4 separate regions of the Homo sapiens genome follow, and regions 1, 2 and 3 are each reported to be linked to region 4. Evidence: microRNA targets listed by miRTarBase, many of them from high-throughput screens and not tested one by one. Region 4 holds a microRNA gene; each other region holds the end of a gene's coding sequence.

Region 1 (7,997 bases), not on the chromosome of region 4:
AACTCCACCTCCCGGGTTTAAGCCATTCTCCTGCCTCAGCCTCCCAGGTAGCTGGAACTACAGACATGCACCACCACACCCAGCTAATTTTTGTATTTTAGTACAGACGGGGTTTCACTATGTTGGCCAGGCTGGTCTCCAACTCACAACCTCAGGTGATCCACCCACCTTGGCCTCCCAGTGCTGCAATTACAGGCGTGAGCCACCACGCCCGGCCACACCCAGCTAGTTTTTGTATTTTTAGTAGAGACGGAGTTTCACCTTATTGGCCAGGCTGGTCTCGAACTCCTGACCTCAGGTGATCCACCCGCCTCGGCCTCCCAAAGTGCCTCCTCTGCAGGGCATCTGAGGCCACCCAGTGCAACCCGAACCTCATCAGGGCACTGTAGGCATTCTCACAGCTTCTGATGCTGAATGTAAACATGCCACAAAAGAATGCTAGGATCAGAGGCATGTTTAAAGCCATTAGTAAAAATAACAGAAAAAATGATTCAGAAGCCAGGCGCGGTGGCTCAGCCTGTAATCCCAGCACTTTGGGAGGCCGAGGTGGGCGGATCACGAGGTCAGGAGATCGAGACCATCCTGTGAATGGTGAAAGCCCGTCTCTACTAAAAATACAAAAAAAAAAAAAAAATAGCCGGGTGTGGTGGCGGGCGCCTGTGGTCCCAGCTACTTGGGAGGCTGAGGCGGGAGAATGCCGTGAACCCGGGAGGCAGAGCTTGCAGTGAGCCGAGACTGTGCCACGGCACTCCAGCCTGGGCGACAGAGCGAGACAACATGAAAGAAAAGAAAGGAAAGAAAGAAAGAAAGAAAGAAAGAGGAGAGAGAGGAGAGAGAGGAGAGGAGAGAGAGAGAGGGAGGGAGGGAGGGAGGGAGGGAGGGAGGGAGGGAGAGAGAGAGAGAAAGGAAAGAAAGAAAGAAAGAAAAAGAAAGAAAGAAAGAAAGAAAGAAAGAAAGAAAGAAAGAAAGAAAGAAAGAAAGAAAGAAAAAAAAACGATGCAGAATAGCGCCCACGTTGAGCAGGTCCTCCCACCTGTGCCCACGCGGATGCTTCCCCAGGGATCCTCTGAACCTCCAGGTCAGAAAGCTGGTGAGCCGTGAATTCACCCTGCATTTTAATTTTTGGGTGTGGTCTGTTCAGGTAGGCAGAGATGGCAGTGCTCTGATTCTGCTGGTGGACTGAAGTCCTCATCCCTTCTCTGCGTGCGCTCAGAGCAGAGGCAGTCTTCCCCCAGACACCTAACCAAGTTTCCTGCAGACACACTGGCATCATAACCTTCAGACGTTTATTCTGAAAGTCTTAAAGCAGTATGTCAGTGGCCCCATACTCTGTAGCCTTCTGCCCCTTGCTTTTTTGTTCAGTACTGAGATTCATGTCGACACGTGTCGCTCTAGGTCAGTCGCCAACTGCTGCCTGATAGTCCTCTGATGATTTACTTTATATTTGACTAATATTGTTTCCAAACAATGCTGCACTATTCTTGTCTACTTCTTTGTGTACACGTTGCCAGTTTCTCTAGGGGACTTGGTTATTCTGTACCTAGGGGCTTGTCACCTGCATTAGCTGCCACAAGTAATTTCTGGACTTTGCCTAGAAGCCATCCTGGGGAGATGGGAAATAGAATTCACTAGGTACCCAGAGAGCCACTAGTATATCCAACTTGATTAAAGCACCACAGTGCCACAGACGAGGCAAGGCTTGGCAGCCATGCAGGCCTAGGTTTCAAATTCTTATCCTCTGTTGCTGGCTGTAACCTGGGGAAATCTAAGCTTTAGTTTTCTTCTCTGCCAAATATCTACCTGGTAAGTGGTTGTAAGGATTTAAGAAAATTGCTTGCAAAGCACTTAAGTCAGGGCAAGGTAGACAGCAGGTACATAATGAGATAAACTTGAAATACAGAGTCCAAATCATTATGATTTCAACTGTACTGCAGCCACAAAGCACCAGTGAGAACGTTATTAAAATCAGGGGTGAACATACTTAATACACCTGATAGGAGTTACGGCCTGAACGTTTATGTCTCCCTAAATAGCTGAAGACCTAACTGCAGCATGTCTGTATTTGGAGATGGGGCCTCTACAGAAGTCATTAAGGTTACATCGGTCCTGAGGGTGGGGCCCTCATCCAACAGGATTCGTCTTTCTGAGAAGAGACGCAAGGGGCTCGCCTGCTCTCCCCTCCGTGCCTGCACCAGAGAAGGAGGCCATCGGCAAGCCAAGGAGAGCCCTCCCCAGAAATCACACGGACCAGCACCTTGATCTGGGACTTCCAGAAAACAGAACTGTGAAAAGACAAGTTTCTGTTGTTTAAACCACCCAATCTGAAGTATTTTGTTATGGCAGTCCTGGGCAGACTAATACAATATGCAACACATTTACAATAAATATACAATAAACTTACAAATGTGGAATGTAATTATTTTATCTTTTTCTGGTAACGCCAGTAAAGCTGTTATCCTAAGAGACATAATTCACACATCATCCACCAATTATGCAATTGACAGAATTGTACCATTATCACAATCTTAGGGCACTTTTTCTGTTTATGCCTGCTCGGCTTATGTAAGCACATTTTCATTACATCAAAAATAAAACTGCCCATTAGCTGTCACCTCCTATTTCCCCCTCCCTCCCAGTCTTAAGCAACCACTAATCCGTCTCTATGGATGTGCCTATTCTAGAAATTCCGTATAAATGGAATCACACAATATGTAGTAACTGGCTTTTCACTTACAGTACTTCATTCTGTTTATGACTGAATAATATTCCGTTCTATGGATGGACATTTTGTTTAACCGTTCATCTGTTGATGGACACGTGGGTTTCCACATTTTGGCTTCTGTGTACGAGTTTCTATGTGGACATATGCGTTCAATTCTCCTGGGTATGAAACTGCTGGGTCAAATGGTAACACCATGTTTATCTTTTTTTATTTTTTTGAGACAGGGTCTTGCTCAGTTGCCCAGGCTGGAGTGCAGTGGCACAACCATGGCTTACTGCAGCCTTGACCTCTGGGGCTTAAGTGATCCTCCTGCCTCAGCCCGCCGAGTAGCTGGGCCCACAGGCACGCACCACCATGCCCAGCTAATTGTTCTGTATTTTTTGTAGAGACAGGGTCTCACCAGGTTGCCCAGGCTGGTCGTGAACTCCTGGGCTCAAGCAATCTGCCTGTCTCAGCCTTCCAAAGTGCTGGGATTACAGGCTTGAGACACCTGCACCCGGCCCATGTTTAACTTTTTGACGACCTGCCTGCCTGTGTTACCACTTTGCCACCAGCAGTGTGTGAGGGCTCCAATTTCTCCACATCCTTGCAAACGCTTGTTGCGATCTTTTTGTATCTAGCCGAACTTGTAGGTGTGAAGTGGCGTCTCACTGTGGTTTTGATTTGCACCTTCCTTAACAAGCAGTGATGCTGAGTGTCTCTTCGTGTGCTTCCTGGCCGTCTGTTTCACCTGCTCTGGAGAAATAGCAGGAGTGTAATACTGAGTGTCTGTTACATGCCAGGTACTCGAGGTCACATACACGTTCTCCCTAGCCCCTCATTCCGATACGCTGTTGCACTCTCCTACTTTATACATAGAAAAATCAGCACTTGGGAGATTAAACTGCAGATTTGCATTTGAATTTTAAATCCATTTAAAAAGCACACACTCATTTGTACTGTATGTAAAAAATGTGCTTCATTCTGTAAGTACCCTCCCGTTTCCACAACAGCAATCAATCTCCCGACAGCAGCGAGCCCTGTGCACCACTCCTGTGCCCGGCAGGCACCACGTGCTTCTGCGTCCACATCTGTGTGCAGGGCAGACACTATTATCCGCCTTTACCAAGGAGGAAACAAAGCTCAGAGAAGGTACCCTGCCCAAGGTCACTTGGTGGGGCAGAGCCTGGGTCTGAGGTCAGAGGGCCCACGGTGTGCTCAAGTGCCCCCATCCCTGCCCTTCCTCACTTTCACTTCAGAGCTCGAGTGTGCTGAGACGGGACACGAAGATCCCAACCAACCATCCACACTGCTAGGATGACAGAGGGCAAGAGAAACCTGAGACTGTAATAAGGACATTTTCTTTTCTTTTTTTGAGACGGAGTCTTGCTCTGTTGCCCAGGCTGGAGTGCAGTGGTGTGATCTCGGCTCACTGAAACCTCCACCTCCCGGGTTCAAGCAATTCTCCTGCCTCAGCCTTCCAAGTAGCTGGGATTACAGGCACGCGCCACCATGCCCAGCTAATTTTTGTATTTTTAGTAGAGACGGGATTTCACCATGTTGGCCAGGCTGGTCTCGAACACCTGACTTCGTGATCTGCCCACCTCGGCCTCCCAAAGTGCTGGGATTACAGGTGTGAGCCACCGTGCCTGGCCAATAAGGAAATTTTCTAACTATATGAACTGAAGGGCCATGGCTTCTACAGAAAATATGTTTACATCAAATACAATCTTGGGAAGAATAAAAAATAGCTCTCCTATTCCTTACAGGGAAGGCTATAAACAATATTTTATTGTACTGTTTTTATAACCAGAGTAAACCTTTGGATTCTGTCATGGATTGAATTGTGTAACCGCAAAATTTATATATTGAAGTCCTAACCCCCAGCACCTCAGACTGTGACTTTTGTGGACATAAGATCCTTGCAAATGTAATTAGTTAAGATTAGGCCATGCTGGAGCAGGGTGGGCCCCAATCCAACACAGCTGGTGTCACTACGAAAAGGGGAAATTTTGGACACCAGCACCCACACAGGGAGGACACAGGTGAAGGCAGAGATGGGGCGAAGTATCCACACACCAAGGAACTGAAAATACCACCAGCAGCCCCCAGAAGCCAGGGACAGGCCTGAGCAGATTCCCCTCACGGCCTCAGCAGTGACCCCCCACCCGCGACACCCTGATCTCAGACCCCCGCCTGCAAAGCTGTGAGAGCACACATCTCTGTTAAAGCCCAGCTCGCGGCATATGCTGTCACCGCAGCCCCAGCAAACCAACCCAGTATGCAAAACGCACAGGCTCACAGGATAAACACCTTCGTTTTACTCCAAGGGTAAGAATTAACTTTGACTAGGAAAATCAGTAATCTATTCATTAAGTTTCCTGAGAACAAACAAGTAGGCCTGCTCCTCTCACCACGTGCTTGTTTATTTCGGTGAGTTAAGACCATGTTATCAATTCCATCTCAGAGGTGCTCCAGCCCTGGAGCTTCCTGTATTTTCCAAAGGCTTTAAATAGCTTAAAACGTTTCCATACAAAAAGGGCTCCACGACATTTATCCGCGCAGACTGAGGGCGCCTCAGTAGCGGTACTTGGTGGAGTAGTCCTTGGGGGACACCACCAGGCCGCGGCCTTTGCGGGCCCCGCGGTACACCGTCTCGATGATGTCCACCATCTCCTGCTTGTCCTCCATGGCCCAGTTAATCTTGTTGTTGTTGCCAGTCCCCAAGTCAATCATGATGTGCTTGTTCCTGCAACGAGAAACAAGGGCATCCATTCTCATAGAAGTCTCTTTAAAAAAGAATTCCTTGAAAACAATGCCGTATTTTTCCCACTGTGACAAGCTCTTGTTAACATCACTGAAGAACGCATAAAATCGAGAGTGTATGCCATGATGCAGGAGAATACAGGAAGCAGCTAAATGTGTTTTTAAAGATGCAATGCATTGTCCACCATGCTCTTTCCTGCATTTTTCTGTATTTATTTAGGACAGTTATTCTAAGGGGAAATTAAAAGGTCAAAGGAGGGCAGGCGCAGTGGCTCATGCCTGTAATCCCAACTCTATGGGAGGCTGAGGCAGGAGGATCACTTGAGGCCCGGAGTCCGAGATCAACATGGATAACAAAATGAGACCCCCATCTAATTTGTACTAATTTACCTGATAAAAGCAATGTGTAAGTTTTTCACAGTGCTCTTATGAGCAATGACATAAATTGTATTAAAAGCCCTTCAACTATGAAATGAAGATGACATTTTGCATGTTTATGGTTAGGGAAGTAGATAATTCTTTACTTATCTTTCAAGAGACTAGTTCTTTTCCTCATGAATACTCATGTGCACTTTACAAGATAAGGATATTAACCCTTTGTTGTACTGGCATAAATTTATCCTGGTTTGTTGAAGTTTCTTTTTGAGATGGGGTCTCACTGTCATCTAGGCTAGGGCATAGTGGCAAAATCAACCTCCTGGCCCAAATGATCCTCCCACCTCAGCCCTCTAAGTAACTGGGACCACAGGCACGAGCCACCACACCCAGATAAATTTCTAGTTTTTTGTAAAGATGGGGTGTCCCCATGTTGGCCAGGCTGGTCTCAAACTCATGGCCTCAAGTGATCCTCCCACCTCGGCCTCCCAAAGTGCTGGGATTACAAACGTGAGCCACTGTGCCGGCCTGATTATTTTTCTTAGAGATGCGAGCTATGTTGCTAAGGCCGGACTCAAACCCCTAGCTCCAGTCCCACCCCGGCCTGCAGAGTGGCTGGGCTGCAGGCATACCCCACCTAAAGACTGTTTTTTAACGTTCACTTCCACAAGATCATGCATTTGGCTTCCACCTACTATTCCGTAGAAAGTATTCCCCGTGAAGTCTCTGGTTCAGGAGAGGCAAATCTGATCAGGGTCTGGAGCCCACCTCTGGCCGCCCTCTCATTCTCCATGCTGCAGGCAGGCCCTACATGCAGCATGCACCAAGCTCCTTCTACAATGACTGGGGGCTGCCCGTAGCACCCTCCCTGCAGCCCTATCTGACCTGGGTGTACTTCTTCGGTATTTATATCTCATAAACATCTGCCTCCTTTCACTTCTTCAGAACCCCCTGCTAATTTACTCAGCTGTTTCTATCAGACAACGTCCTATGAGAGTGGGAATCCTGTCTTATCTGACATTAGGCTCCACCACTAGACCACAAACCTGGTGGGGGCTCAAGATATATGTTTGGTGCATAAGTTAACTAAAGTACCGTTTGTCTTAAAATTCTAAATCACAGAAACAGCAGAAGGAAGTTTCATCTCCTTTTCTGAGTACAGCATCAGTCCTAAAAATATCAAACTACACTAAGTAGGCTGCTCCCGCCACCCAAGGCTGTTGCCTGCAGCCTCCTTGCCCCTCACAGCATCTCCAGCCCCAGGCTGGCCTCCACTGCACGCTGTGGGGGGCAGAGACCTAAGACGGCCCTCCCTGTTCTCACCTGAAGAATTCTGAGGGGCAAAATAGAAAAGGCCTCTATTGCCTCGAACAGGCTGTTAACAGAAATATGGACTTCAGGAACACCTGGTGTGGGCTTGGAAGGAAGTGAGGAGTGTGTTACTGGGAAACGGAGAAAAGGGGACCCCCGTTACAGAGTGGCCGAGGAACAGGGACACGGGGTCCGCAGTTATAGGAAGTCAGAGCTCAAAAGCAACACACTCGGGATATTTAGCTGCGGAAACTTCCAAGCAAAGTCTCGGAGGTGCTGCCTTCAAGAGAGGAAAGAGGCAAATTAGTGTAAGAACTGTTAACAAAAGGAATAAATTCTTTAGCCTCTCCGGATGGCCAAAGGGGCTGAAATTCAGAAATGGCTGCTGAACACACAGTAGAGAAAAGGATGAGGGTCAGCCACGCAACCTTTGCTGAAACCTAGGAAAGATGAAAAGTTCACAAGAAATGCAGGGTGCACCTCACAGATCTTCTCAACCTAACAGGAGGCACCTAGGAAGCCAAGGGCGTGTCCAGGGGAGCGTATCCCGACGCCCAGAACCACGGCAGTGCCTCACGCTTTGGCAGCCTGAGGCGGGAGGATGGCTCGAAGCCAGGAGTTCAAGCTTGCTGTGATGGTGCCACTGCACTCCACCCTGGGTGAGAGTGAGACTCCATCTCAATAAATAAATAAAACAAGGTCACTATCCTGGATTATTTGGGCAAGTCTAATCTTATCACAGTCCTCTAAAACCAGAGCATTTTCTCAGGCAGAACTTTTCAGGTCAGAGAACCTGTGTGAAAAGTTCTCAATGTGCCGGCATGCCAGTGCTGGCTTTGAGGGT
Region 2 (3,883 bases), not on the chromosome of region 4:
AGCTCCTACTACAACCGGGTACACATCCTGGGGGTGAGCACACAGCAAAATGGGGTGGGACGTGCAGAGAGGTATAGGGTAAAGGCAAAGGAAGCAGAGGATGAGACCAGCAGGCCCTTTCTCTTTCAGGAGCCTCGACCACACCTCTTTGGTCAGATGTTCGTCCGCCTGCAGCTTCTGAGAGCTGTGCGTGAGGTGCTCCATACTGGCCTGGCTATGCTGGGTCTCCCTCCACTGAGCCACATTTAAGGCCACAGAGGCTCCAATACCTGGGAATGTTCACAAAGTCATCAACTGGAAAAAAAGCAAAAACCCACGGCCAAAATAAATTGGTACTGTTTGTTACAAAGTTCTGTCTTGTCATGGGGAGTCGGGCATATTCTTGGCAGCACTCCACTCACCTTCAGCTCCTGCACCGACATCAGGAACCCACGGCCACCACCTCCTCCCCTCAAGGCATGCTGAGCATGGGCACAGACAGCCCATCCCTGCTCCATGCTGTCTGTGAGCAGGCCCCATGCCCAGCACGCCAGCCACCGCAGGATACCTCAGTCATACCAGTTGTAAACCTCAAGCCCCTGACCCCCAAGGGCACAACGGTGGCCAAACTCAGGGCTCACAGGCCAGCAGTCCATGTCAGCCACATCAGGCACATGGAACACAGTGCTATTCATGAAGGTGGGTTCACCATGCCCCAGACGCCAGAAGGTCAGCCGTTGATCAATGGAGGCTGAGACCATGATGCTTGGGCTTAGGATCTTGAGGCCTGTCACATGGGCAGCATGTGCACAGGGGACAGAGTATTCCTCTAGCACACGCAGCTGGGGTACCAGCCCAGCCTCTCCCACAGCCTCTTCTAGCTGTAGCATCTCCACAGCAAGCACGAAGACATGGAGGGATCCATCTTCACTGCCACTGGCCACGAGATGGTGGCCCTCACGGGTGGGCAAGGTGTGCAGGCTGTTGATACCACAGCTGTGGGCCTGGAGAGTCAGGGAGGGGGTGCCAAGCCCTGAAGGAAGAGGAAGAGGGTAGTTGTCAGGGCCCCGCCTGCCACATGTGTGAGGGCTATGTGACAGGTGAGGAGGGGTAGCCATGGTTGCACATTAGCTACTCACGGTAGGGAAGCCCAGGATCCACTGGAGGCTCCAGGACAGTGGAGTCATGGTCTAGCATGGTGGTGAGATCCCAGAAAGCCAGGCTGCCATCAGTAGCTGCGCTGCACAGGAGGAGCCTCCTGAGAGCCAGGAAAAGACAGCCTGGTCAATAACAGAGATGAAGCTCAACAGGAACCCCCCAACCCAGCCCATGCAGGACCATCATCCAGCCCCTCTCACCGCCTCTGGTTGGGTGCCTCGTGTGTAAAGGAGTGGACCTTGAGGACACATCGCTTATGGTGGAAGGTTTCAGCAAGGAGCTGCAGAATCCGCCCAGAATCCTGCAAAAGAAAGAGCCTGGGGGGCGGGGGGTGGCCCAGCTCAGAACGCATCCTAGACAACCTTACTTCCTTTGTCTCCTGTCCCACTGGGCCCTATGCTCTCACCTTACGGCCCCATCACTACAGGCTGCAGCCACAAGGGGGCCAAGGCCGGGCTGGTCAAGTTCACACACAGCAAGGGACATGTACCTGCAGAGACAACATGCAGCTGTCAGGTGGAGCCTGCAAGCCTGGGAGCATCTGCATGACCCATACCACACCCTGCCCAGGAGCATATATTACCTGGTCTCTGGGTCTACCTTAACCATCCGATGCCGATTGCGTTGCCGGTCCCAATACTCATCTAGCCGGTGGGACGAAAGGTGCATGACATGGCAGGCGAGGCGGCTTGGGGTGCTGGGGTCCGGAGTAACCATGATGCTGAAGCAGTGCATCTCAGCCCGCCCCCCCGCAGACACCACATGGGCAGTCAGGCCTGGCTGAGGATCCTGAGGGCCACCTGGGGTGCCAATGCCCCACACAGCCACAGCACGTACCGAGGAGATATGGTTACAAACAGCTGTGAGTGCGTGGGCTGAGCCTGTGGTTGTAGGGAGTGCTAGGACACAGACAGTAGTGTCCTCACTACATGTGATCACAATGTCAGTCAAGTCGGGCCCCTCACTGCCAGGCTCCAGGTCATCAGGCTGCATGAAGCTGGGCACTCCATATTCAGGCCCCAGGGTAATGGTGCCCACACGCTTTACACAAGTGATCTCACGGCCATGCAGACCCTCCCGGAGAATCACGTGTGGCCGGGTGCAGCCACCCAGAGCCCTGTACAGCATGACATCCCCATCCTTGAGGTAAGCAAAGGCCATGGCCGCCTCAGTATCAGAGAATGCCCACGAACGGTGCCCTCCACCACAGTTGACGATGTGCAGCTTCTCGTGTGACCGAGGGTTCCACACCACAAACTCATTGGCATGGAAACCCAGGATAACCATGCTCCCATCGGGCACTATACGGAGCCCAGCTAGCCAGTTCATGCCTCGACAGGACTTCTGCCTTAGGACTGGCTGGAGCTGGCCGTCTCGTACAAACAGCTGGTAGTAGGCTCCATCACGCCCTGTGGTATACACATAGCCACCATGGCATGTGACTGAGGTCACACCCTGCTTCCCGTGCAGAGAGGGCAGGGTAGACACTGGGCCCAACCCAGTGAAAGCATTCCCACCCCCACTACTACCACTACCCACTACAGGTGCCCCAGCACCAGCCCGAGCCTTGCCTCCCACCCCAGGGTCCTTGAGCAGACCTGGTCTGGAGGGGAATAGCAGCACAGAGCCCCGGCGGTCACCACACACCAGGAAGTCACCTGGGGGTAGGAAGGCACTGCATGTGTGCCATCTCTGCTTGCTTGGGGGCAGCAGGTACCGACAACGTTCCTTGACAAAGATGGCCTTGCCAGAGGGTGCGGCTGAGATCTCTAGGCAAGCTACTACCCCGCCAGGGCCCGATGCCAGCAACAGGAGCTCCTCATAACCACGCAGGGCCCAGCTCAAGCTGTGCACCTTCCCAGGAAACAGGGTCTGGTCCACAGCAGCAGTTGGAGTGTTGATGGGGACAACCTTGACACGACCTTCCCCATTGGCCATAGCACACAATCCGAAGCCCTCGGGACCAGGAGCTGCCTCCAGCAGGCAGTAGGACTGGAAATGTTTATCCTCTAGCAGCTGCTCCCAGCACTTGACCTCGACGTCATAGAGATACAGGGCCCCTGTATCAGTCACTGCCAGCAGTCGCCAAGAGCCAGCCAGAGTCACAGCCTTGAGTGTACCTGGCCTACTACGGGACTTGAAGCAGAGAGCCGAGACCCCCAATCCCCGGTACCCACGCCCTACCAAGTGCCACAGCCGAATGCCTGAGTCATCACCCCCAGTGATCACCCAGGCCTGCCTCTCATGGGCAGCTATGGCCCGGATCCCACGTCCCTGGTGTCCCCGAAAGGCCTGGAGGATCTCACCTTCATGGCTCCACACCAAGCAGACACAATCCTCTCCTGCACTGATAAGGTAATTCTCTAGAAGCTTGACCTGCCACACACGGGCGCTGTGCCCAAAGCAGTGCCCAATATTCTGCACCCGACCCCCAGGCACTCGCAGGTCGCCCACCTTCCAGATACGAACGCTTCGGTCTTCTGAAGCTGTAGCCAGCAATCCCTTGCTTTCCAGGTATGACATGCTGAAGATGATGCCCACATGCCCACTGATTCGTCGGTCAGGTGCTACAGGTTTGTTGTCTGCTAAGGCAGTTGCTGGGTACCAGACCAAGAGCTGGTTGGAAACAGCACCTGCCACTATGGTCAGCTCCTTCCAGGCGTCTCCAATCAGGCAGGCTGAAGAGAGGGTGCACCTGTCTGTGCAGGGCACCTCTTGCAGGATGCACCCTACTACAGGGTCATAT
Region 3 (7,997 bases), not on the chromosome of region 4:
CCTCACAGCACCTCTGGGCTCACCTAATGTGCCATCATCACTCAGACTTCAACATCACCTAGTGCTGCAGTTCCCACCACCCGCCCGAACCACCCCCGCCCCAACCCACCCCGAGCTAAAGCAGTATCTCATTATGGTTTTAATTATGATTCTCCAGTTACTAAATAGTTTAAGCATCTCCTTATATTTTGCTGCTGTCAACCTCATGAAATAATAGCTACTCAGTTAGGTAATGTAGAAGGTAAAATGGCCCCAAGCATTTTTATCTCCTCTCTTTGGCCACAGGATCCTGAAACTGAAAACGACCTTTGGGTCCCAACTATCCACGGCTTTCCCACAAAGCTCTGAAAATAAGAGTTGAGAAAAAAGTATTGAGCTACTGGACAAATACATCAGTGTCTTGAGAATGTGTCCCCTACCTTCCAGCAAACAAACTGTTGCTTTTCTATGCAGTGCCTGGCCTCAGTTTCCTTCCACATGTCACCCACAGCCAGCCTCGGAGATCCTCCTGCCTAGGGCTGCCCTTGACCAGAGAGATCTGGTTGCAGCAAAGCCACAGGGACACCAGTGGCTCCTCAGAGCTTGCGTGGTCAAGGGCTGAGGAAGGGCGTCTGTTTCAAGCCATTTCTATAAAACACCCTGTGGGAGCAGACCTGAAGGAGAGGGGCAACCGCCACACAGGTATGGGGGAGAAATGTTCCCTGGAGATCAGAGGCCGAGGCAGGGCCCACCTGGCTTGCTGAAGAACAGAGAGGCCATCATGCTGGGTCTGCAGGGAGCAGGGGGCACAGTGGTGACGAGAGAGGAAGAGCTCGGGGTGGATTATGTAGCACTTCCCAGGCCACTGCGAAGCTTTCCCGGAATGAATCTGAGTTGCTGCAGGGCCTTGAGTACAGCAGGGGCAGGCTCTTGCTTAGTTTTTATTTTCATTGTTTTAATAAATTTCATTGTGTATATTTAAGGTATGCAACGTGATGTTACAAAGTACAAACAGATAGCAAAATGGTCACTACAGGGGAGCAATTAACATTCCCATCACCTCCCAGAGTCAACCACTTTTAGGATTTTGTGGCAAGAGCAGCTGAAGTCTAGTCATTTAGCAGGAACTCCCAAAACAGTGCAATTTTATTACCTACATTCCTCCTGTTGTACATCGGATCACCAGACTGGTTCATCCTACATATTTTAAAGTAGAAACCCATCTACCTGCTGGGTTGAGAATGCATTGTTGGAGCAGCGGGAGGAGATGAGGTCCCCAGGTCTCCTGGGCAGAAGAGGACAGTGCCAGTGGGCCACGGTGGGGGACTGGCGGGGAGCAGGTAAGATGAGGTCAAGGTCTTTGGCTACAGGAAGAGCCTGCAGGATTCCTTTGCAGACCTATTGTGGACTGTTAGAGAAAACAACTCAGAGACAGCTCTGAGATGTCTGAGGACTGCAGGGATTGGGCCCCTGGGCAAGTCTGGGATGGAGGCAGTGGTTGGACCTGGAAGAGGGTTTGGGAGAGAGACCCACGTCAGAGAGGCAAGTGTGAGGTCACCATGGGGGGCTGGATAGGACAGAGAGGCCACACGAGGATGCCAAGGGTTCTTCCACATGAAGAGGGTGGAGTGGAGAGGACACAAGGGAGACGGAGGAGCATCAGCAAGGCCAGAGAAAGCCCTTGTGGAGGGAATGTCCCTACACAAAAATCCATTCAAAACAGACAAGGGCTTAATTGTAAGGCCTGAAACTGTAAAGCCAGTAGAAGAAAACACAGGTGAAAAACTCCATGACACTGGCCTAGGTTTCAGGGTTGTATCACTTCTTGCATATGACCCTAAAAGCACAAGCAACAAAAGAAAAATAAACATACATGATTGCATAGAGCTAAAAAGCTTCTGCACAGCAAAGGAAATCATAAACAGAGTGAAGACAACTCACAAATTGGGATAGAGTATTTGCAAACCATACATTAAGTAGGGGGTTAATATCCAAAATATACATGGAACTCAAACTCAATAGCAGGAAAGCAAATAAACGACTAAAAAATGAGCAAAGAACCTGAAGAGACACTTCTCAAAAGAAGACATACCAATGGCCAACAGGTATATAAAAAAATGCTCAACATCATTAATCATCAGGGAAACGTAAACCAAATCACAATGAGATTATCTCACACTTCTTAGAATGACTAATTTCAAAGAAAATAAATGTTGGTGAGTATGTAAATTATTATAGCCATTATGGAGAAGCATATGGAGGTTATTCAAAAACTTAAAAAGAGTACCGTGACCCAGCAATCCTACTGCTAAGTATTTTCCCAAAGGAAACGACATGAATATATGGAAGAGATACCCACACTCCTGTGTTTCTTAAGAGCACTTTTACAACAGTCAAGATACGGAATCAACCTACGTGGTCTAGAAGCAAAGTGATAAAGGGATAAAGTGGATAAATGGCTTAAGAAAATGTGGTGTATACACATCATGGAATACTATTTGGCCATAAAAAAGGAAACCCTGCCATTTGCAACATGGGTGAATTTACAGGACATTTATATTAAGTGAAATAAGCCAGGAACAGGACAAATATCACATGATCTCACTTATATGTGGAATCAAAATGTTGATTTATAGAATTAGAGAGTAGAACGGTGGTTAGCAGGGGCTGAGACAAGAGGATTTGGGGAAATTCTAGTCAGAGGGTACAGAGTCCCTGCTATACAAGAATAAACTCAAGGTCTATTGCACAGCATGGTGACTTCAGCTGATAACCGTGTACTGTACGCAGTTGGCCCTCTGTATCTGACTGTCCCACATATGTGCAGAGGGAGGGCTGACTGCAGGGTACTTGAGTATCTGCAGATTTTGGTATCCATGAGGGGGTCCTGGAACCAATCCCCCTTAGGCACAGAGGGATGACTGTATTTGAAATTGCTGAGTGTAGATTTCAAATATTCTCACCACCAAAAAAAACATGAGATGGATACATTAATCTGTCACTCCACAATGTACATAGATATCAAAACATCACACTGTGCCCCATAAATATATAATTTTCTTAAATAGAAAGAGGTTGTGATTGACAGGGTGGGATGTTGCTGGTCAGCTAGGTTAGGTGAGGATGGTGAAGCCACTGTCGGACCTGGTGATGTGGAGACACTGATGTTGTGGGAGACTCTGCCATCAGGACCTGTCCGGGCAAGCATCACAGGTGTGCAGGGCAGGGGCAGGGATGCTCAGGGATGACAGCAGACTGCAGCAGGCGGAGACAGTGAGAAAGACAAACTGGAGGTCTCAGGGTCGGGATGTTGTTGGCGTGCTGACAAAGATTCTCTACTTGGCCAAACTCTGGCCAGGCTCTGGAATCTTCTCCTAGGGCCCTCTTTGCCCTTTCTTATGAAATCCAGTTTTAGCAAGAACCCTAATTTGGTTAACCATAATATCTGACCACCCTCAATGGTACCTGACTGGGTTCCTCTCTGACCGTTTGCAGCCAATGTCTGATCGCCCTGCCTGCCTGCAGCAAGGACTCTGTGAGGTGGGTTTAGCCAGAGCCCCCTCAGCCCTGATGTCTCCTCACAGTCATTCCCACCCATGGACCCTATACTGCTCCTCGCTCCTCCAACCCCTGCCCTGCTACGTCGGGGTGGAGCCCCATCTCCCCCCAGGCCCCAAGGAAAGGGTCCCACACCCATCTCAATGGTCCCAATCAAAGTCCTCCTCACCATGCTTTAGCACGTGTCACGAGGAAGTTTCCTTTGACACTGGAGGGTGGCCAGGGCAGGGGGAAGAGGCCAGGTGGACACACGGAGACGAAGCAAACGAGCTGACACAAACCCACTTTATTCAGCATTGAGCCAGCCCACACGCTGGGCAGGTCAAACTCACAGACATCGCACCAAGGGCCGGGGACTCAGAAGGGCTGAAAGGCTTCATCTGGAAATGGGCACCGCTCACAAGCCCGGCTATCCCCAAATCTCAACAACTGTCTGCATCTATGTCCCCGACTTTGCAATCCTGTCCCCAGTGCTGAGTTTCTGTCGACTAATTTATCTACACACAAGGATGCTGCAGGCAACTGAGCTACTGCTACAAGCTTTGCAAAATTCAACTACTAAAGGAAATGGGAGGAGGGAAAGAGCTAGAGATAACAGCAAGATGAGACACGATGGCAGGGCCTGGAGATGCTAAATGGGGTTAGCCACCTGCCAGCCCCCTCACCCAGGGAAACAGAGAAAGAGGCTTCCTTCTGCGGAGGCAGGTGGAGCACAGGGAGGGCTCCTGGGAGGCACAGGAGTGGGGTGGGGGCCAGGAAGGGGGAGGTGGACAGAGCGACTTGGATAAGGCTGGGCCGGGCCCACGCCCACCTCAAGAGGGGGGCCGCCTCCTCAGGAGGCATCAAGGTGCAATCCAGTCTTCCTTTCTCTCCCTGAAGACCTGAGTTCCAGCCTTCACAGAGCGTCATGCGCATTCTTCTTTCTGGATGCTAACCCCAAATCCGACACTCAATGGTGCACCTCAGGTACCTGCCAAGGATCTGTGGGCCCACATGGAAGGTGCAGGGTCTGGGTCCCTGGATGACGAGGTGAGGGGCAGATGGGTGACCAGGGAAGGGCATGACCCAGAGCTGCCGGGACTCATGGAGGATGGGCTGTGGCTAGGACTTCAGGAAGGGACGGGCACAGGTGGGAAGGGTCCTCAGGTCCAGCCTCTACCGGGAGGTGTTTGCAGCCCCCAAAACACGCCTCGGGGTGAAGGATAAATGGACATTGTTGAAACACGCAACTATGTAGATGGACCCAAGGCCAGGCGCCTGCCACGCTTCCCTGGCAGCCACACGCTGACACTTCCCATGGAGATGAGGATCCATCCTCCTGCCTCCAGCTCTGGGACTGCCACGGGTTGGCGCCATCACTGCATGGGAGGGGAGAGGGAAAGACAGAGAGACAAAAAGAGAAAGAGACACACAGAGTCAGAGACAGAGGCAAAAGGAGAGAGCGAAAGAGAGAGCGCACATGAGACAGCGCATGAGGTACTGTCCTGAGCACAACAAACCCAGGGCCTGGCCCAGACTTCCGTCTCCCCAGGGCCAAAGCCTTGTCACCTATGGCTGGCACGGGCAACTGAACCGTTCAGGGCCATCTGGGTTGCTGCAGGGTCTGGGGTTCAGGCCAGGCCCTGGGCAGAGGCAGAAGAAAAGCCCTGAGGTTGGGTTTCTTGGCTGCTTCTGCCTTCAGGACCCCAGGGCGAGGCAGGAGCCTTCCATGCTCGGGCACTCGGGATGCCAAGTGCCCTCCTTTGTGAAGGTCAGGGACACCTCAGACCCTCCTCAACTTAAAACCCCTTCCCATCACCTTCCCTGACCACCCACCCATTCCCGAAATTCAGCCCTGCAAGGCCACGGCAGTGGGAGTCAGGCTGGGCTTTTAAGCCTTGACTTCGGGCAATGGTCCCCCAATGGCTCGCTGCTGCCTGCGTCCACCCTGGCCCGATGGTGGGCAGACCCAGCGGGGCTCCCGCACCTGCAGCAGCATGCTGAGGCCCAGGTTGCGATGCTTCTTCTCCAGCTCCGAGACCGCCTGCAGCAGTGACCTGAACCGCTCAGTGGGGTCAGCCAGCTCGTCCTCAGGGAGCCCCTCCTCCTTCTCAGCCTCCTGCAGGAAATGCTCCTCCTCCTCCACAAAGAAGGCCCGCAGCTTCTTGTAGTCGGTCAGTGCCTTCTTCCTACGGTCCATCACGTGTCCCTGCAAACGGGTGGCAGGAAAAGACCTGTGTCCTCACCCACCCTCCCCAGGGGAAGGGGAACCTGTTTGCTCTTGAAGGAGTTAAGAACATGCCACTCCAAAACATGCTGCTCAGGCACATCGACTATTAGGCCAGGCACAGTGGCTCACGCTTGTAATCCCAGCACTCCAGGAGGCCAAGGCGGGCGGATCATGAGGTCAGGAGTTCAAGACCAGCCTGACCAACATGGTGAAACCCCGTCTCTACTAAAAATACAAAAATGAGCCAGGCGTGGTGGCACGCCTGTAATCCCAGCTAATCGGGAGGCTGAGGCAGGTGAATCACTTGAATCCAGGAGGCGGAGGTTGCAGTGAGCCCGAGTTCATGCTACTGCACTCCAGCCTGGGCGACAGAGCGAGACTCCATCTCAAAAAAAAAAAAAAAAAAAAAAAAAGCCAGGCACGGGGGCTCACGCCTATAATCCCAGCACTTTGGGAGGCTGAGGCAGACAGAACATGAGGTCCGGAGATTAAGACCATCCTGGCCAACCTGCTGAAACCCCATCTCTACTACAAATATAAAAATTAGCTGGGCGTGGTGGCGCACGCCTGTAGTCCCAGCTACTTGGGAGGCTGAAGCAGGAGAATCGCTTGAACCTGGGAGGCAGAGGTTGCGGTGAGCCAAAAAAAAACAAAAAACAAAAAAAAAAACAATAACAGAAGAGGCCTGGCACGGTGCCTCATGCCTGTAATCACAGTACTTTGGGAGGCTGAGGTGGGAGGATTGCTTGAGCCCAGGAGTTCGAGACTAGCCTGGGCAACAGTGAAAACCTGTCTCTACTAAAAATCAAAAACATTAGCCAGGCATAGTGGTGCACACCTATGGTCCCAGCAACTCGGGAGGCTGAGGTAAGACGATCGCTTGAGCCCAGGAGTTTGAGGCTGCAGTGAGCTATGACCATACCACTGCACTCCAGCCTGGGCCAACAGAGCAAGGCCTTTTTTAAAAAAAATCAAAAAACAGTGCAAGATCACCCTGACCTCCATTCTGCTTCTTAAAAGCAAATGAAATTCCCAAGTGAAAGACGCCCTCCCCATATCAAATAAAATGATTTTATCATCAAGGACGACAGGAAGTCAAGGCCGACAGAATTTGGTACAGACCTTGTGAAAACAACTCTTTCAAGCATCCCCACATCATGTAGTTGCTTTTTTACAAGTGGCTAGTCTTTGTCCAAGTCAGTATATAAGTGATTTAATTTTGCCACTTTGAGTCTTCATTTCATTATAAGGGAGCCTGTGCTGTATAAAACTTGTGTTAAATTAATATGCCTGGCTGGACACGGTGGCTCACACCTGTAATCCCAGCACTTTGGGAGGCCGAGGTGGTTGGATCACTTGAGGTCAGGAGTTCAAGACCAGCCTGGCCAACATGGTGAAACCCCATCTCCACTAAAAATACAAGATTAGCCAGGCGTGGTGGTGCACACCTGTAGTCGCAGTTACTCGGGAGGCTGAGGCAGGAGAACCACTTGAACCAAGGAGGTGGAGGATGCAGTGAGGCAAGATCGCACCACTGCACTCCAGCCTGGGCAACAGAGCAAGACTCCATCTCAAAAAAAAAAAATCCTATGTTTTTTCTCCCATTAACCCATCTCCCTTTATTTTTTTTTTTTTTTTTTTTTTGAGATAGGGCCTCACTCTGTCACCCATGTTGGAGTGCAGTGGTGCCATCACAGTTCACTGCAGCCTCAACCTCTTGGGCTTAAGTGATCCTCCCACCTCAGCCTCCCAAGTAGCTGGGACCACAGATGCAACACCATACCTGGCTAATTTATTAATTTTTGTACAGATGGTGGTCTCACTATGTTACCCAGGCTGGTCTCGAACTCCTAGCCTCAAGCAATCCTCCTACACCTCAGCCTCCCAAGTTGCTGGGATTACAGGCATGAACCACTGCACCTGACCCTGTTAGTTTAGCTTATGTCAGTTTAATTCTCCCGCCCAGCCTGGGGCCCTAAAAGGGGAGAAATAGAGTTCTTTCTCCCCTACACTGCAGTGCTCAGCTGCACAGGAAGACTGTCCCTCTCCCATCTCCCATGGCCAAGGGGACAGTAAATCCTTGAGTGGCCCTGCTAGGTCTAGAGCCTGTCAGGCACGTGACTGTCAGGGCAGGACACACACCCATCTTGCCAGCAACTGTCCCTGCTGTGCCCACACCAGAACTCCAATGGCTGAAAACCATCCCATCAGCCTTCAACAAACAGCATTCACACTTGCCACTCTTCAGCTG
Region 4 (7,997 bases):
GCCATTATCAACTTGCTCACTCATCTGAATTTCAAAATGGCTAAATTAACAATGTGAATCTTTTTATACAATACTTACATGGCTTTTTGTTGGCATGTTAGCATGCCTAAGAAAATCTTAATAGAACCAAGAATGTAAAATTTGCCTCACATTCTAAAGCCAGAAACAAATCAAAAGCAATTCCTATTAAACCCTATAGAACCACAGATCACTACCAAACCCACAACAAAACATACACATTTATTAACTTGTTTATTAGATTTAAATCTCAGTTCAAGCCCAATTAAGTTCTGAACACAATGAATACTAGTTTCAGTCTCTAGGGAGAAAAGCCATTTAAGTCTTTGTTATTAAAACATATTTGACTTACATTTTAGAATATTTAAGAAATCATCCAGCAGGCTTCCTATCACACTGTTCCAGTTTTTAAAAAAATTGCTAGTGTATCTCCCCAAAAGCACACCATTTTGCAAACTACCAGACCATGCTGTATTATGAAACTTTTTTTTTTTTTTTTTTTTTTTTTTTGCGTTTAAGTCTTGGTCTTGCGCCCAGGCTGGAGTGCAGTGGCAGGATCTCAGCTCACTGAAACCTCCACCTCCCAGGTTCAGGTGATTCTCCTGCCTCAGCCTCCAGAGTAGCTGGGATTACAGGTGCACGCCACTGCACCCGGCTAATTTTTTATATTTTTAGTAGAGACAGCGTTTCACCATGTCGGCCAGGTTGGTCTCGAACTCCTGACCTCAGGTAATCCGTCTGCCTCAGCCTCCCCAAGTGCTAGGATTATAGGTGTGAGCCACCGTGTCCAGCCGGAACTTTTTAAGCATAGTTTGAAAGCCACGTTTGTCACTAAATAACCAAAAAGACACAATTATTAGGTCTCCTTCAATTCAAAAAGCTTAAGAACTCTGCTAATGTACAATTTGATTTCCATTTTATAAATCACTGTTCATTTCACATCCTGAAAATTTATGTTTTCATCAACTCCAGAATGATAGAATTCTTACCTTTCTATTCAGGAATCCAAGGCTAAGTTCCTTAAATTTCTTAAAGAACACATTAGAGGTGAAAACTTTTGTTAGACTTCAGACAATATTTTTAAAAGCTGATTTCTAGATTTATTGGGTGGTCTAACCTAGTGTTATGGAAGTTTATTTCTTATTACTAAGATAGCCTCTTTTACTCCAAAATACAATGACATTTCTCAAAACTTATCTTTCAAACATCAAGTTTGCCTGTACTTCAGCTTGGGCCCAATTTTACCACTTGGTCCTTTTAAATCTATTATTCAGGTATCCCACATTATTCTACACAAATACACATAGGCTAGAGACAAAAACACATGAAGAAAAGAGAGAAGGCAGAAATGCTGGGTAAAACACTAACTGCCACTTCTTAGTTTCCACTTCAGTGACTTTAAGTCAAATAAGCCTGGAATCAACTATCACTGTTGCCAAAGTCTGGCTTACGTAGGGAGTAGGGAACATAAATGTTAACTACAGACTTAGAAATAAATGAATATCTGAATCTCACCCCACCGCTGCACTCTTGGCATTTGGGAAGAGTGTACACATACATTTAACTGTTACTCTATTTAGCATTTGTTCTTTTTCTAACTCCCATTTTTTTAAGTTGCAGATGCTAAAAGCAGTCTGAGGACCTTGGTCATTTATAGCTTATAAATCACTGACAATCAGAAAGAAAAACTAGTATACAAGCATTTAACAGTTACACTTCAGTTACTCATGTATTGGTAAACTGGTACTTGCTTAATAGAAACAAATTGTACCCCAACCCTAAATTCCATGCTTAAAAAAACTCATCTTTACACATTGCTTTAAACAGAGCGGCATTCTCTCTAAATTTAAATACTTGAGTAATATATGAGCAACATAAATTAACTTTTAGATTAAGTAAAATATCCTGGAATAACACTAACTCCAAAGAAAGCAAAAAGATATACTCTAACTTTACAGATGATCATCAGGTATACAGTATGTTTAGTCATATCGCAATACTTAACAGCCAAATAAATCTAACAACAAAAAATATAGCCAGAATTTATACTGCCAAATCTGACACGCAACCCCAAAAGTGAAATGTTTTTGAATGAAAACAAGACAAGATGTATTTACACAAAAAGTTACACATTTTCTTTAATATTTCATGTATCTTGTACATTTAACAGTGGAAGTCGAAATCTTCAGTAATATTTAATTTTCAAAATCTTCTGGTCACAATCCCCACCAAACTCAACAGGCCGGGACAAGTGCAATACCATACAGAAACACAGCATTGCAACCGATCCCAACCTGTGTAGAAAGGGGTTTGAGTTTCCCTTACTTTTCTACAGACTTTTCACTACCACAGTCAGTTTTGCATGGATTTGCACAGCAGAATATCACACAGCTGGATGCAAACCTGCAAAACTAACCATAGAACAGTGTTCAGTAACAGGACAGTTTGATTGGGCGACAGGCCGAAGCTGGAGTTCTACAGCTAGCAGTACTTTAAGTGCTCATAATGCAGTAGATAACTAAACACTACCTGCACTATAAGCACTTTAGTGCTACAGAAGCTGTCACATCAGATAGACCAGGCAGATTCTACATCGACACAATAAAAGTACACAAAATTAGTAAAAATCATTCATTTGAAGGAAATAGCAGGCCACCATCAGTTTTGCATAGATTTGCACAACTACATTCTTCTTGTAGTGCAACTATGCAAAACTAACAGAGGACTGCAAACAAAAACTATTAAAACACCTATATACTTGCTTGGCTTGAATTATTGGATGAATACATAACTTCTTATGCCAGAAGGAGCACTTAGGGCAGTAGATGCTAATCTACTTCACTATCTGCACTAGATGCACCTTAGAACAAAAAGCACTCAACATCAGCAGGCCCTGCACTTTAAAGCCCAACTTGGCTTCCCGAGGCAGCTGTCACCATAATGCTACAAGTGCCTTCACTGCAGTAGATGCACATATCACTACCTGCACTGTAAGCACTTTGACATTATTCTGACTGGTCACAATCTTCAGTTTTACAAGGTGATGTTCTCTTTTTTCCTGCTAAATTTGAAATAGATAATTAGAATTAACACCTCAAACTCTAACAACTATAAACCATACAAATTCAGCATAATCCCTAATGGGGAAGAAAAAATTAGTTTAATTATCTCAAAGATATGAGGTCCATTTAGACACGTATTTATGCCTTAAGAATTCTTTACAGAAGGCAATCATAACCAACCATCCAACTAGCACTGGAAGTGGTGGCTCTTCCAATGGCTGGCCTCTCCCAAATGGATTGACACATAGAGAAAAAAAACAAAACAAAATGAGACTGCAAATAAATGAGAACTAATTTTGGAACATTTAAAGGCAATTTAGTCCATGTGTACCTTTTAGAGGAAATCTTCACATCCACGTGGCAAAACATTTTCCTCCTCTTCTGGCTTCCACTTAGCAAATACTTGTTGAAATGATTAACAAAATTACTGTTCAGACTACACTTCAAGTGTTATCAGTCAATTGTAGCAGAACGTAAATATCCTGTTTAAATCTATCATCTCAGGTTATATCTACTTTATCACCCAACTTAAAAGAGGGTCTAAAATTATATTTCGTAAACTGCATAAGCCAGTTTCCAAAAATGTACAGGAATATTTACACTGTAATTTTACTACCTTAAAATTAGCAAATCCGTACTTAATGAGTTAGTTTTTCAGAAAAGGTACATTGTCTAAAGAAAGAAACACCTACTTTTACTCTCTAAGAAACCAATCCTATTTATTCAACTTTAATAGCAAGAAAAATTTGTTTTTAAGAAAAGTTCAAGAAAATCAGAATACACTTACCCATTCCAGAAAACTTCCTTTTCAGCAAGTATTCTCAGAAAAGCTACTGGTGCAGTTAGGTCCACGTGTATGACTGGAATAGGGAAAAATAAGGAAAAAAAAGATAAAACATTATTTGCTCAAAATTACTACCACCGTCCAAATCTATATTTGCTATTTTCCAACCTCCTAACAGCAATTAATTCCATCCATTTGTGAGAGTAAGAGTCGAGCAATACTAGCAGGATTTAAAAGCCCAATAATTTACAGTTGAAAAATACGTAAGAGAATAAAGTTGAAAAATCCTTAGCTATCAGATACATGTCTAAATAAGCTCCTAAAATACTTGATTATGATCAGCAGCAATCACCGACTCCACTGTACAGCTCCAGTAAAAGGAAAAAAAAAAAGCAGCCCACAGACTATTCTTCACCACCCCTCCCCCAATCAAGACCTCGTGGCTGCAAGCCGGGATAAAGAGTTGTTTCTCCAACTGCTGTGGTCCTGATGGCATGCCGTTAATTTTCTCTTTTGGTGATATTGCAACGACGAGCCTGCCTTTTTCAGTTCCTTTTCCCTTTGCTGCAGTTTAGGAACAGAAGACCGGGCAGGAACACCCGAGACTGCAAAGTGCCCGCCACGCTCATGGAGCCCGGGCCGGCAGCACATGTCGCACAAGGGGGAGCGCGGCCCTGCGATTCTCCGCGTAGCCGCCAGGGGGCGGCGGGTCAGAGTCAGGCCCCGCCGGACGCGGCAACCCCCCCAACCCGTTTCCCGGCGGCAGCCGCGCGGCGACCGGCGGCGCCGAGGCCCGAGTGCGGCGGGGACGCGGGCGCGCCGCCCCTCCTTTGTGTCCCCCAGCCCCCCCGAGCCCGGCCCAGAGGGGCGGGGGCTCCGCGGCCGCGGTGCCCGTCGCACGCGGCCCGAGGCCTAAGCCGGGAACAATCGGCGGCGGCGCGCAGTCGCCGCCATGTCCCCCGCCCTCACCCCCGTGCAGCCCGCCCCGCAGGAACATGGCGGCGGGGACGCCGCTCCCGCCGAGCCGGGCTGGCCCTCCCGCGCCACACTCCCAGCAAGCGGCCGGGCGCAGGCGGCTCCACGCCGCGGCTGAGGCCGACTGCGGCCTCCTCCGAGGGCCACGGCGGGGAAGTTGCGGGCCCCGCCCCGAGGCTGCCCACGCGGGCTAACAAAGCCCACGCGGAGCGGGGGTGGCGCCCAGGCCGCGCCGATCTCGGCGCCCCTCCGCCCACCCTCGCGCGTACAAAGTTTGGGGAACCGCGGGCTCCCGCCCACGCCACGCCGCCCGCTGGCGCGCAGGTACCTCGTGGGCGCGCCCCCTCCCGGCCCGCGGCCTGCCCCATGTGCCGCCGCCGCCGCCGCTTTGTTCTGGAGGCGCTTTAACTCTCGCCCTCGGGAGAAACTTTCCTACCCAGAGACCCCACGCCCCGCGCGCGCCCCGGGCCCCGGAGAAGGCACGGGCCTCGCACGTCCTCTCCCCGAGGGGCCATTGTGTTCGCCGTCCGCCCACCCGCCTTCGGGTCGGCCCAGGCAGGGTCTGCGCGGGTCCCGGGCGCGGCCGCCACGCGCACGCCGCCCCCTCCCACCCTCCCGCCCCGGCCCTGCCCCCCTCCGCCGGCCCGCGGGCGAGCGAGGGGGCAGCCAGATGCGGCTGCCACACGCCGGGGCGGCCAACGGCCGAGACCCGCCCCGGCCACGCCGCCGCCGCCACGCTGCCCCGGGCCAGTCCGCCCCGGGCCGCTCCGCCCCGCCCGCCAGACCCGGGCCGCACACAACAGGTTTCCCTCCGTCGCCGGAGGGGCGGGCAGACTCACCAGGAGGAGTAGCCGCCACCATCTTCGGCTGGCCGGCCGCGGGCTCCTGCTCCCGCCTCCCCGCCCGCCTGCGCTTTACTACGACCGGAGGCCCCAGGCCGGGGGTGCGGCCGGCCGGCCCGCCCCGCGAGGAGAGCTTCGCGGAGGAGCGCGAGCCCCGGCGGCGCTGCGGTAGTCGTCCCCACCCCCTCGGCCTCGCCCGAGGGCGCGAAGTGGCGCGAAGGCGCAGGTCGGGCGGCGGCGGCGGCACCTCGAAGGACCATGTGGGTGAATGAAGGGCGGCGGCTCCCGCCTCAACGTAAATACGGACAAGCCCCACTCCCTCATTAGCATAAAAAACAAAGTACTTCCGACCTCCCCGCCCGCCCGCCAATCACCGCAGGCCCCGCCCACGGCGGCTCGTTCTTGGCGGCCGGGAGAGCGGGAGCCGGGAGCCGCTGGCGGCGCCGCGCAGCCTTCCCCGGGCCGCGCTCCCCCGTGGCCCGCCCACCGCCGCCAGCCTCGCGGAGCGCCTCGCCCGAACACCTCGCGCCACGCCTCCGGCACGCCCTCCGTTAACAAGCTCTGCGCGCGTGCAGACCCCCGCGCGCCGCACACCCTCCTGGAAGCGCACGCTTCCCGGGGCTTCCTGGGAGCCCTGCTCTCCCTGGGACTCGACGTGTACGCTGTGCGATCACAGTTTATTACTTTACCGGCCCTTGGTGGGTTTCCGAGGTAATTAGGGGCCTGCTCCAGGCCAACCGGAACCAGAGAAGTAAAATCCAGTGACTTTAACATCGAAACAGAATTACTCGCTGCAAAGATCGTTTGAGACCCAGAAATAAATACATTACACCCGACACTCTTGTGAATGCACACTTCGTGGCAATGTGTTTCCTTAACCTGGCCGCGTGTAAACCAAAACGCATGCCCGAGCAGAGGTTTCACAGCTGCAGTACCTGAGCCTCCCCTCTCATGCCCAGCTGCATTTAGTAAGAACTCTGGGTTCTCCAGTAGAAATAGCATAGCTCGGAAAGAACCTCATAAACAACCACAAAGCTGAGAAAAGAAGCCCAATCAGGAGCACCTCCTTCTTCACATTGTGGTTCAGGAAATTCCGGAATTCTCAGAAACATAATTGTTAAAAGTGAGGATTCATAACATTTACGAGAAATACAGCAATTATAAATTGGTTTAAATCTAGTAAGTAGCTACTGCAAAGCACATATCACTGGTTCGTGATTGTACAAGTCAACTGTAAAACACACATTACCAAAGGATGTCTTTAATGCCCCAATGTTAAAATTTTTGACATTCAAACCTTGACAGTATTGTCATTTACTGTCTTTGACTTATTTTATCATGCTTTGCTTAAATCCAATTGTCAAACTAGTGATGACATAAAAAATAGTGGATTAAAGTTTTGCTACTCTTTTTTTTATTGAGTCTAGTTTCTAGATATTCCTTTCTTTGTAAATCAAAATAAAAGGCCAAATCTGAAATTTTACAATATCTAATATTTCTGTAATATAGTCATTTATGAACGTTTCAAAGAGGAAAACACTGCTAATTTTATTACAAGTCTAATTTTACGTTACTTTTGGTCGGCATTGACTAATATGTCAATGCCTTTTTCTTTAAAACTTTATCTTCTGTTTCAAATTAGAATGGTTGAGGCGGGGGGATGTTGTGAGTAAGATTGTTCATCACACTCTCTGAATCATGGGAAATCCCACCTATATACAGGTTTCTTAGCAGGAGTTATTCATCTCATAGTTTCCTTCCAATTAAAGTCAACATTGAAATACTACTAGCTTTAAAAAGCTGTTTTTAGGTATCTCACTATATTTCTGTGGAAATCTGACATACAAGCAACTATTTTCTGTGACTACAGTATAAGAAATAATTCTTAATGTATACCCTTTTTTATGGTAATCAGGATTTTGGAAGACGCAAATTCATTTAAACCTACTGACTTGGAAATTCCAGAAAGTTTCAGAATTAGTAGGTTGCATTTTAAGGGTTTCGCTCATACTTCCTTTCAAAATTAATAAATTATCTTAAGTATAATTAGAATAATTGAAAACGTTTTAATCCCAAATGAATTTGAAGCTTAGCCAACTTGATGTTTTTTGGAAGTCACTACTAGTGAGAAACCTATCTTCCCTGATTTTAGGGGCCACACTTGGGTATACTTGATAACTAAAGGGAAGATTTTTGTGGTTATAATTTTGAAGATCACAAAAATATGTGAACTGCTAACAAATGCCTTCTGCAACCAAGGAATGTAAAAATAAAGCAATCTGAAATGCCAAAGTGAGACACACAGCCTTCTCAAGT

What was found. The annotated mature microRNA hsa-miR-18a-3p reads ACUGCCCUAAGUGCUCCUUCUGG and lies in region 4 at 2,819-2,841, opposite strand. An mRNA with a match to its seed (bases 2 to 7 or 8) in the 3' UTR can be bound and repressed. Matches are read on the target gene's strand: a 7mer-m8 pairs with bases 2 to 8, a 7mer-A1 pairs with bases 2 to 7 and ends in A, and an 8mer does both.
Region 1: the mRNA of TXNL4A is a reported target of hsa-miR-18a-3p. Seed matches in the 3' UTR shown: 7mer-A1 at 4,297-4,303 and 7mer-m8 at 3,936-3,942.
Region 2: miRTarBase lists DALRD3 as a target of hsa-miR-18a-3p. The part of its 3' UTR that is shown has no 7-base or 8-base seed match.
Region 3: the mRNA of RNF187 is a reported target of hsa-miR-18a-3p. Seed matches in the 3' UTR shown: 7mer-m8 at 3,610-3,616.

What each region holds. Positions count from the first base shown.
Region 1 is chr18:79,968,407-79,976,403 of GRCh38, forward strand. It overlaps TXNL4A (thioredoxin like 4A), which reads right to left. Exons shown (of 3, transcript NM_006701.5): 3 at 2,407-5,450. The coding sequence ends at 5,279. It overlaps HSBP1L1 (heat shock factor binding protein 1 like 1), which reads left to right. Exons shown (of 4, transcript NM_001136180.2): 4 at 2,034-2,416. The coding sequence ends at 2,045. Among named protein-coding and RNA genes, the nearest start is that of HSBP1L1, 7.8 kb to the left of the region's middle.
Region 2 is chr3:49,011,954-49,015,836 of GRCh38, reverse strand. It overlaps DALRD3 (DALR anticodon binding domain containing 3), which reads left to right. Exons shown (of 12, transcript NM_001009996.3): 11 at 1-33; 12 at 130-349. The coding sequence ends at 249. WDR6 (WD repeat domain 6) reads right to left here. Exons shown (of 6, transcript NM_018031.6): 2 at 1,721-3,883; 3 at 1,544-1,627; 4 at 1,338-1,454; 5 at 1,119-1,237; 6 at 1-1,012. The coding sequence ends at 549. Among named protein-coding and RNA genes, the nearest start is that of DALRD3, 4.7 kb to the left of the region's middle. RefSeq lists a silencer at 1,483-1,612 and an enhancer at 1,407-2,244.
Region 3 is chr1:228,490,781-228,498,777 of GRCh38, reverse strand. RNF187 (ring finger protein 187) reads right to left here. Exons shown (of 4, transcript NM_001010858.3): 3 at 5,504-5,725; 4 at 2,590-4,895. The coding sequence ends at 4,893. Among named protein-coding and RNA genes, the nearest start is that of RNF187, 7.4 kb to the right of the region's middle. RefSeq lists enhancers at 4,959-5,904, 7,976-7,997.
Region 4 is chr13:91,345,641-91,353,637 of GRCh38, reverse strand. MIR18A (microRNA 18a) reads right to left here and starts at 2,887; the gene lies at 2,817-2,887. MIR17HG (miR-17-92a-1 cluster host gene) reads right to left here and starts at 5,951. Exons shown (of 3, transcript NR_197388.1): 1 at 5,679-5,951; 2 at 3,868-3,940; 3 at 1-3,482. It overlaps MIR17 (microRNA 17), which reads right to left and starts at 3,033; the gene lies at 2,950-3,033. MIR19A (microRNA 19a) reads right to left here and starts at 2,747; the gene lies at 2,666-2,747. It also overlaps MIR20A, MIR19B1 and MIR92A1. RefSeq lists enhancers at 3,818-4,365, 4,366-4,913, 6,383-6,462 and silencers at 4,463-5,452, 5,503-6,282.